Linked DNA regions of Homo sapiens: region 1 is linked to region 2. Evidence: fine-mapped expression QTL. A gene starts in region 2. The other region holds a variant in brackets. All regions are shown on one strand. Distances are from middle to middle. Region 1 overlaps EFTUD2 (elongation factor Tu GTP binding domain containing 2). Region 2 holds the start of EFTUD2 (elongation factor Tu GTP binding domain containing 2).

What was found. PIP is the estimated chance that this variant, and not a neighbour inherited with it, causes the effect. A credible set is the group of variants that fine-mapping cannot tell apart.
Region 1: its variant is the best candidate, but not a certain one, in a credible set for the expression of EFTUD2 in whole blood (INTERVAL, PIP 0.66).

What each region holds. Positions count from the first base shown.
Region 1 is chr17:44,857,315-44,862,622 of GRCh38, reverse strand. EFTUD2 (elongation factor Tu GTP binding domain containing 2) reads left to right here. Exons shown (of 28, transcript NM_004247.4): 17 at 2,080-2,191; 18 at 2,578-2,718; 19 at 3,442-3,543. Among named protein-coding and RNA genes, the nearest start is that of HIGD1B, 12 kb to the right of the region's middle. The variant G/A (reference allele first, on the strand shown) is at 2,886.
Region 2 is chr17:44,897,193-44,902,568 of GRCh38, reverse strand. EFTUD2 (elongation factor Tu GTP binding domain containing 2) reads left to right here and starts at 3,124. Exons shown (of 28, transcript NM_004247.4): 1 at 3,124-3,200. DNAAF19 (dynein axonemal assembly factor 19) reads right to left here and starts at 2,840. Exons shown (of 4, transcript NM_213607.3): 1 at 2,710-2,840; 2 at 1,428-1,579; 3 at 917-1,049; 4 at 1-204. The coding sequence starts at 1,570.

The DNA.
Region 1 (5,308 bases), 40 kb after region 2:
AGTTGCAAGGCTCTGTGCAAGAGGGGATAAAGTGGCTCTCCCTCCGCAGGGCTATTGACTTCAAGTTCTTCCTGTCCCAGGTTTGCTGGGGCCAAAGGCAGCTACTGTTGGAACAGTGCCAGAAGCTTCGCCTTTGCACTTTGGGTGGCTCGTGTGAACTTTTTTTTTTAGCCCTATTTGTTTGTTTTGAGACAGGGTCTCACTCTGTCTCCTAGGCCAGAGTGCAGTGGCACAATCTCAGCTCACTGCGACCTCCGCCTCCTGGGCTCAAGCAGTCCTTCCACCTCAGCCTCCTGAGTAGCTGGAACTACAAGCACACACCACTATGTCTGGCTAATTTTTAAATTTTTTGTAGAGACAATGTCTCACTATATTGCCCAGGCTGGTCTCCAACTCCTGGGCTCAAGTGATCCTCCCACCTCAGCCTCTCAAAAGTGTTGGATTACAGGTGTGAGCCACCACACACCATCTTAAAGCCCTTTTGAAAGCATGAAGCTTGTATGAACTTTTGTAGGAGGATTTCCATTGTTACTCATCTTAATCCTCTTTTCATTTCCTCTCCTGTGTTCCTTAAGTCATAATCTTTGTGTTTCTTCCCAAAAGAAATTGTTCCCCAACTCCACTGTCTACTCTTTGACCAAGAGAGAAGGCTTCGCTGGATCCCTTGTAGCATCCCAATCTGCAGTCAAACTTAGCTTGGGCCTCTGGGCTACTTGTCAGTTTATGAATTTGGTTTCCCAGTTGACAAGTTAAACCAAAGCATTCGTGTTCCCTAAGGTGGCTACCCTGCCTCAATGGTGGTCCCTTTTGTTAAATCCACCCTAAATGCCAAAAGGTGGAATATTGAAGAGCTGGGAAAGTGGAAGTTTTCTGTGATGCTTTTTTTTTTGAGATGGAGTCTCACTCTGTCGCCCAACCTGGAGTGCAGTGCCTGTGATCTCGGCTTACTGCAAGCTCCACCTCCTGGGTTCATGCCATTCTGCTGCCTCAGCCTCCCAAGTAGCTGGGACTACAGGCGCCCGCCACCATGCCCAGCTAATTTTTTTGTATTTTTAGTAGAGACAGGTTTCACCGTATTAGCCAGAATGGTCTCGATCTCCTGACCTCATGATCCACCTGCCTCAGCCTCCCAAAGTGCTGGGATTATAGGTGTGAGCCACCGCTCCCAGCCTTTTTTTTTTTTTTTTTTTCTCTCTGTCAGCCAGGCTGGAGTGCAATGGCGTGATTGCGGCTCACTGCAACCTCTGCCTCCCGGGTTCAAGCGATTCTCCTGCCTCAGCCTCCCAAGTAGCCAGGGTTATAGGTGTGCACCACCATGTCTGGCTAATTTTTTGTATTTTTAGTAGAGATAGTTTTCACCATGTTGGCCAGGCTGGTCTCAAACTCCTGACCTCAGGTGATCCAGCCACCCACCTCAGCCTCCCAAAGCACTGGGATTATAAGCGTGAGCCGCCACACCCGGCCTTCTTTGATGCTTTTGCTAGCCCCTTACAGTCGACACCTTGGGCAGCTTTTTACCATGAGCCTGCAATTGGAATAAGATTTTCCTCTTATGTCCTCACAGAAATACCTTGTACTTTTCTTTCATAATGCCCATCAGTTTGTAACCACATACATGTGTGGATAATGATTGTTTACTGTATCTCTCCCCTGCTAGAATGTATCTGTTTTGCTCACCCCTGCTCTTGGCACGCAGCAAGTACTCAGTAAATTTTTGTGGAATAGGCTGGATGTGGTGGCTCACACCTGTAATCCTAGCACTTTGGAAGGCTGAGGCAGGAGGATTGCTTGAGCTCAGGAGTTCAAGACCAGCCTAGACAACATGAAAAAACCCCGTCTCTACAAAAATACAAAAATTAGTTGGGCATGTTAGTGTGTGCCTGTAGTCCCAGCTACTTGGGGGGCTGACGCAGAAGGATCACTGGAACCTTGGAAGTTCGAGGCTGCAGTGAGCCAAGATTGTGCCACTGCACTCCAGCCTGGTAACAAAGTGAGATCCTGTCTCAAAAAAAAAAAAAAAAAAAAAATTAGGGAATGCTCTGCCTAAGTTTCACTGCTGCTTATTGGACATTGCTTCAGGTACCACATCGAGGTGAACCGTGTTCCTGCTGGCAACTGGGTTCTGATTGAAGGTGTTGATCAACCAATTGTGAAGACAGCAACCATAACCGAACCCCGAGGCAATGAGGAGGTAGAGTTTCTGAAGAGACCAACTGGGTTGGCTTAAGCTAGATGGTCCCAGGGACACACATGAGCACAAACGGGACTAATCCACAGTCATTGCCATGTCCTGGTTTCAGGCTTAGCCTTCTAGATATGACCCTGCTGGATTCTCCCTGTACTCAGTTCAGATGCGAGGAATTAGGACGGGTGCCTTTTATTATTTTCCTCCTCTCTTTGTTCTGCCAGAATACCTGGGAAGAAATGGCCCTTCAGGTTACCCCCACTCAGCACCAGGCTCCTGGTTGGGGAATACATAGTCTGATCCTAAGCAAGTCCTCTTCTCTTCTCATACCTCTGCACTTTCTGTGCCTGCTCATGCCAGTTGCCCTCAGTCCTTTGTGCTTTGGATCTCAGGCTCAGATTTTCCGACCCTTGAAGTTCAATACCACATCTGTTATCAAGATTGCTGTGGAGCCAGTCAACCCCTCAGAGCTGCCCAAGATGCTTGATGGCCTGCGCAAGGTCAACAAGAGCTATCCATCCCTCACCACCAAGGTATGCCCATGGCCTGCAGCAGCCGCCAAGCCCCACTATCCCCAGCTGAATGGGCAGAGCTGCACACCGCTTCCCATCCATCAGGTGTTCATGATCTGCTGCTTACAGGAAGCTGTGTCAGGAGCAAGCCCAGCCTATGGCTGTCATGTCAAGGCAGGACAAGACAC[G/A]TGTGTGTGTGTATGTGTGTGTGTTAAAACAAGACCTGTGTAGGAGGGGGCAGTGATGGGGGGTATAGGACAAGGTTGTGTGTGTGTGTGTGTGTGCGTATTTGTGTTCCGCAGATGTCTTTATCTAGACAAAAATACATTTCTTAATGAGTATACTTTGAATTGATTTTCTCGAGAAGAGAAGGAAAAGTGAGTTGTTACTCTGATCCTTGTACACTATGAGCCTGCCAGTGTACCTTTCCAGGTAGCAGGCCAGGAGGGCTAAAGGGCTAGCTTATGTCCATGGGTATAGGGTAGAGTTTGACCTAAATCATTAAGATGGGAATTAAATCATTGACTTCACACCTAGTATCACCATGCTGAGTGGTCCTGGTGTCTTGAGGACCCACTCATAGGCAGATGCTCCTCACTGAACCTTCTTGAAGAGGCTGGAACAGATGCTAAGTAGTAGCTGTTTCTGATAGGCAACTTCTTGTCTGCTCTGGCCTTGATTTTGTTTGTGTGTGCCTTTGCTGGCATAAGAGAATCCAGGCTGTGACTGCCTGTTGTGTTTCAGGTGGAGGAGTCTGGCGAGCATGTGATCCTGGGCACTGGGGAGCTCTACCTGGACTGTGTGATGCATGATTTGCGGAAGATGTACTCAGAGATAGACATCAAGGTACAGCAGTATCTGCCGGGAGCTGGGTTCACGGTCCAGACTTTTCACAAGTGACCAAATCCTTGAATTCCTGGGAAGCTCCAAGGGAAGAGAGAGTACATGTGTTTGTGAAAACCATGATCTGTTGCTCCTTATATGGGAAGGTTTTTGAGAACTGGTTTGCCCCCTTCTGCTGTGTCATACGTTTAAAATCAAGGCTCAGCCGTGCTTGGTGGCTCACTCCCAGCACTTTGGGAGGCCGAGGTGGGAGGATTGCTTGTAGCCAGGAATTCAAGACCAACCTGAGCAACAAAGTGAGACACTGCCTCTACAAAAATTAAAATAAAAAAAATAGCCAGGCCGGGCATGGTGGTCCGTTGCTGTAATTGCAGCACTTTGGGAGACTGAGGTGAGAGGATTGCTTGAGCCCAGTTTGAGACCAATCTGGGCAACATAGTGAAACCTCGTCTCTACAAACCAGCCCAGTGCAGTGGCATGTACCTGTAGTCCAGCTACTGGGGGGCTTAGGTGGGAGGATCACCTGAACCTAGACTGTCAAGGCTGCAATGAACTGTGATTGTGCCATTGCTCTCCAACCTGAGCCTAGGAGGTCATGGCTGCAATGAGCAATCATTGTGCCATTGCTCTCCTTTTTGAGATGGAGTCATACCCTGTCTCAAAAAACTAAAAAATAAAAATTAGTCAGGTGTGGTGGCTTGCACCTATAGTCCCAGCTACTCCGCAGGCTGAAGCAGGAGGATTGCTTGAGCCCAGCAGTTCGAGGCTGCAGTGAGCTACGATCATGCCACTGCACCCTAGCATGGGTGACAGAGCAAGACCCTGTCTCAAAAAATAAATGCATTGAAAAATAATAAAACAGGCCGAGCACGGTGGCTCACGCCTGTAACCCCAACACTTTGAAAGTCCAAGGCGGTTGGATTGCTTGAGGTCAGGAGTTCAAGACCAGCCTGACCAACATGGTGAAACTCTGTCTCTACTAAAAATACAAAAATTAGCCAGACATGGTGGCGGGCACCTGTAATCCCAGCTACTCAGGAGGCTGAGACAGGATAATTGTTTGAAACCGGGTGGCAGAGGTTGCAGTGAGCCAAGATCGCACCATTGCACTCCAGCCTGGGTGATAGGGCGAGACTCTGTCTCAAAAAAAAAAAAAAAAAAAGGAAAAAGAAAATAAAGGCTCCCAAGCCAAAGTTATTCTTGGTCCTTTGTTAGGGAAATAATTGCACAATTAAACAATTAACCCATGGGTGGTGATTAGGTCTCAGAGTGGGTGGTTTCAAGGAGAGGGTGGGGACTGTCTCTCCCAGATTCTTTGTCAAGCCTTGATGTAGCCCCTCAAACCATGTGTTGCTTGGCCTCCTTGTCCTAGTTGAGTCGTATTTTCTCCAAGGCCCTGTGGAGGACCCTCAATACCCCTCTTAGACTCCTCTACTGATGTATCTAGGAAGGAGGAAGGATTGGTGTCATAGAAAACACTGGGTTTCCTGGGCAGCAGACCATGTTGGGGCTTCAGGGCAGAGCTTCACTCAGATGCTGTGGGTTGAGAATGACATGGGTGCACGCCAGTGGGTCTCAGCACCAGCTCTGTCAGACCCATGGGGGTTGTTCAGTGAATGGTGGTAGATGGCTGAATGGATGCTGAGAGCTACCTTTGAAGACTAGAATTAAGGCCCTAGTTTGATACCCCACTTACTCTTGGCTCAGGAATCTAATTTCTTTACTACAGTAAGTTTTCTTGGGCTTTTTGGTGATGATTTGGACAGCT
Region 2 (5,376 bases):
CCGGTCAGCCGGCCCCACGTGATCAGCCAGTGCCACCAGCAGCTCCCCAAGAAGTCCAAATCCCACATCTGTCTGGAAGAGGCAGCCGAGCCTTGGACCCCCAAGCTGCAGTAGAGCCTGGTAGCGCTCTGGCCCACTTGGCAAGTGTCGTCGCCAATCACGATAGAAGTCAGCAGACGTCTCGGGCTGGAGGGGGGCTTTCTCCTGGACCACAAAGGAAGGAAAGGGAGTCAGGAGCTCTTCCAGCTGTTCTGCAACAGTGACAGGGAGGGGAGCCTGTAGCTCTTCATCTTACTGTCTTCATCTCACTACTGTCTGAGCACTGGGAAAGCTGTGGTCCTTGGCGGCCTCATTTTCAGATGAGGAAACTGGGGATGAAACAGGGAGGGCCCCAAGGAATCCACGCCATGATTTGAGATTCTCATTTATACTGGAATTTTCCTACTCATGAATGGAGACATAGCTCTGGTCTTCAAGAGTAAGTCAGGGTTTACTGTAAGTCGGGTGGATGGGTTGATTGGAAATCTCAGGAAGAGAGAAAGGAACTCAAGGATCTGAATGTTGGGGTCTCTCTCTCAACACTGCCACAGGATCATTACACTAGACACCATACAACCCAGAGGCAGAGCATCCCAATTCTGATCTGAGAATGAAAGTCAAAGGACTAAGGGAAGCCGACCTTCCTAGCCCAACTTTCTGACTCATTCTGCCCACTTCAACTCAGCTTTGCCATCTGCTGTTTGTTTTTCTTTCTGGGATTGGAGGCAGAAACCTATCTCTGTTGGTTTAACATGACAAATAAAGAAGAGGTATGTGTGGTTAAAAAAACAAAACAAAACAAAACAAAATGAAAAAACAGGATTGAAGCTTTAGGGCAGAGAATCCTGCTGGACTAAAGGGGCAGGGCCTCACCTACCGGGGAGATTTCAGTGGCCACATCCTGGAAGGTCCTTCCCTGAATAGTGTGACAGTTCCAGGGCACAGTTCTCTTTCCTCCCATCTTATCCTTCCGCTCCAGTGGCTTCAGATGTGATGCAAGGACAATACCCCTGTAGGCAAAGGACAGAAATTAGGCAATGGACTTAATGCTGTGTCTGTGGGTGTGAGGCAGCTAGACTTTGCATGGTATAGGATAAACCTGTTACGGACCAATATGACCATAATAATAACAACAGCGATAGCTGACTGCTTTCAAGCACCTCACATGTGTCAGACACTTGCTCAGTCTTATGTGCAAGAACTCATTTAATTATAACAGTTACTGTTCTACAGATAAATAATTGAGACTCAGAGAAGTTAAGGAAATTGCATAAGATCAAACAGTAGACGGTGGGGCCAGGACTGAAGCCCAGAATGGTTTGATTTCAGAGTTAACTACTATAATCCACCATAACAGGAGGGCCTGAGAAAAATGGCAGTGAGCCAACCTGAACTCCTCATAGGAAGCCACCCTCTGTTCCACTGCCCGTAACTTGGCAGCATTCTCCCGTTTGTACTTCTCATCAGCAGTGAGTGCAGCCTGCAGCTCTTTCTCCAAAGCCTTGAAGTTGATGATGTCATTCCTTTCCATGGCCTGTGCCTGGGAAGGCAAAGGGAATACATGTCAGTGGACAGTCAATATCAGGGGAAAGAGGGTACCTCTGAATTATTCACCAGAACACAAAATGACCCCAAAGCACTCTGGACATCATGTCACTCAGATTGGGAGGTGTTACAAAAATCTGGTTTTCTATTTTACAAAGACAAGTTGAATTTCACAGTGAGGACTTACACAAGACTTGTCCCTGAAAATAGAATACAGAGTCCTGACTTTCAATTTGGAGTTCTGTCTTAATTTTGCTCTTTGCCTCTAAAAATATTTTTAATTTTGGTGCTTCAGTCGAGGAGGCATTGGGATCTCAGAATTCAGTTTCTTCACTCTTCCCCCATAGGATTGTTCTACAGCAAGTCGTTTCGACAGGGGACCTCACACAAAGGCAGAACTCTTGTTAGTTACCCTTGAGCTCGGGGATAAAGTTTCATTCTTCATTGAATGTCTTTAATGAGGAAGGAGACTTTCACCCAAACCAGATGCAATGACTGAGCAGGAAATCAAGTAGAAGGGGCAAAGGAAGGAGCTCAATGACCCCATCCCCAAATCCCTCTGTCCAGCCCAGGGCTGGAACAGAGGTCCCTAGGTACCTGGGCAATGCCTTTAGTTCTATCACTGTACTTCTGTAGTTTCTGCATATCTGAGGCTGACTGATCATTTCTACAGAGATATTCTTTTCTTTTTTTTTTTTTCTGGCTCTGTTGCCCAGGCTGGAGTGCAGTGGCGCGATCTTGGCTCATTGCAACCTCTGCCTCCGGGGTTCAAGCAATTTTCGATCCTGACCTCAAGTAATCCGCGCGCCTCGGCCTCCCAAAGTGCTGGGATTACAGGCGTGAGCCACTGCAGAGAGATTCTCTACGTGGGTTCTAGTCGTGGCTCTGGCATTTACTTGTGGGACCTCTCTGAACTGCAAACTCCTAGTGAGTTGAGCTAGATTTTGTGGCGGGGTCATCACCAACAGCCCTAGCGCAAGGAAGCAGGAAGTCCCCAACCAATCCCATAGCCACCCTACCCCAACGTAGGGAATCTGAACGCCAAGAAGGGGCTGGGGTGGCCAGTAACCGAAATCAGGTGTCCAGTTCTCAGCCCTCCCCAGGCATTTAATACATAGAACTAACCCTTCCGTCCCCTTACTCAGCCTCCCGGACCTTCACCCCAGCAGTCCCGGCCTTGGTCCCCTTGCTTTCTTTGGGGATCCCCTGATAAACCAGAACAGGAGGGCAACCCCGCGCAGACCACGCCCGCAGCTGTGGTTGCCTAGCAACTGCGCTAACAGCCTGACCACGTGATCTGCCCGAAGGCCCCTCCCCCCATTTTCAGGGTGGTCCCGAGGCGCCTGATCAGATTCGTTCATCCTCAGCTCTCACCCTCTTTGGAGCAGCCCACGTCTTGGGCTACTCGTCTTGGGGACCCGCTACTCCGCCTTGCCAGTCCGCGGCGGGCATACCTCGGAACTGGTCCTCAGGCAGAGGGTTGTCCTCCCGGGCAGAAAGGCGACAGCGGCGTCTGCGGGGTCCTTCCTGGCGGCGGGCGCAGGCGTTTCCTCGGCGTGGGGCGGAAGCACGATCTCCGGCAGCGGCCTGGGAACTCTTAGCTGAGCAGGCGAGAGGTAAGTTGAAGCGGGTCAGCGGCACGGAAGGGTTGCTCCAGGTGGGATAGGAAATTAAAAAGCGTCAGATCTGGAAGGGGCCTTATATGCTATTGGCCCCTTTCGCTTTACGGATCGGTAAATTGAGGCCTGGAGCGGGAAAAAGAATGGAAGACCCTGTCGTCCTCGTGCCTTCCCAAGGCTTCCGAAGCGCGCACACACGCACACACCTCGATTTCGGGGCTGCCTCTATAGCCTCAGTCCGTAAAATCGTATCGCTAGGTAGGAGTGGTGCTCTAACTGTCCAGTCCCCTCGCTCACTTCCTCTTCTATCCGTGCCGCTTTCAGCCGTTCTTTGCCAAGTTCCCTCCGAAGTCCTCTGAGCTCCTGCATTGTAGCGGGAAGCGGCAGTGAGGTTTGTTACCATGAGTCGCTAGTTTTGTGTAACTGTGGGCAAATCAGCTATATTCTGTGTACCTTGTTAGAGTCATTCATTAGTTCAGTAAATACTTATTGAGGGCTTAGTCTATGCTAGGCACAGTACTAAGTGAACAAAGTCTTTGCTTCAATTGTAGTTGGGGAAATGAACAGTAAACAACTAGATACAAGTCAGCTAGTGATAAATGTATAACATTTGTGAATAGCAATAAAACAGTGAAAGTGGGAAGTTGGAGAGTATGTATGGGGGACTTTTTAGAGTGACAGAGAAGATGACATTTTAGTGGAGACTTGATTGAAATAAAGGAACAAGGTGAAAAATATCAAAGGGGAGAGCGTTTTGGACAAAGAGAAAGGCAAGTGCAGTGGCCCTGAGGCAGAAATGAGCTTGGCTTGTTCCATGAACAGCTTTCTATAACAGTTTCTTCAATCGGCCGGGCGCGGTGGCTCACGCCTGTAATCCCAGCACTTTGGGAGAAAGACGCGGGCGGATCACCTGAGGTCAGGAGTTCGAGACCAGCCTGGCCAACATGGTGAAAACCCATCTCTACTAAGAATACAAAAAAATTAGCCAGGCGTAGTGGTGCACTCCTGTAGTCCCAACTACTCGGGAGGCTGAGGCAGGAGAATCGCTTGAAACCAGGAGGCGGAGGTTGCAGTGAACTGAGATCGTGCCGTTGTACTCCAGCCTGGGCAACAAGAGCAAAACTCTGTCTCAAAAAATATATATAAAATAAATAAATAATTTCTTCAATCCCTTGACTGGGGTCTTGGGAGAATGAGATAAGCATAAATGCGATAGTAGCTTTTTAGAAGTAAAAAGAATATGCATGTGAAAGTTTCCATAATAATTTACATTTAATTATTGGTCCTTGGAGCTCCAATTCTCTCTCTACATTCAGCACCCAGCAGGTGGCATTGAGGGAGTTGGAGGTATCAGTCTAATCCAAGAAATATCAGCATCTTAAAATTAAACATCCCATTCAGTTAACATTTATCCAGTTCCTACTTATGCAAGGTGCTGTCTTGGCTATTGGCTGTGTTAGCATTGGTACTTTTTTCTCAATTATTTAAAAATGTAAAATGTGGCCGGGTGCGGTGGCTCACACCTGTAATCTCAGCACTTTGGGAGGCCGAGGTGGGCTAATCACCTGAGGTCAAGAGTTCGAGACTGCCTGGCCAACATGGTTGAAACCCCGTCTCTACTAAAAATACAAAAATTAGCCAAGTGTGATGGCGGGTGCCTGTAATCCCAGCTACTTGGGAGGTTGAGGCAGGAGAATCGCTTGAACCTGTGAGGCGGAGGTTGCAGTGAGTCGAGATCGTGCCACTGCACTCCAGCCTAGGCAACAGAGCGGGACTCCGTCTCAAAAAAATAAAAAAATAAAAATGTAAAATGCATTCTTAGCTGGAGGACCATGCAAAAACAGTTGGAGGGGCCAGATTTGGCCACAGGTCAGAGTTTGTCAACTCTTGCTCTAAAGTATTAGGAGGTGAAGAGGCATTGTGTCAGCAGCATACTGTCAAATATTTGGGGAAAAGAAAGTTATTTGTACTGTTCTTGCCACTTTTTGGTATTATTTTAAAATTAAATTTAGTATCATAAAAGAAGTGAAGAGAAGAAGCAGGTGCATGGAACACAGGGTTCTCATGATCAAGGATGGCAAAAAATAATGCTAGCTAACGTTTATTGAGCCTAGGACTCTGGTAAATTCTTTTTTTTTTTTTTTTTTTTTGAGACGGAGTCTCTCTCTGTCAC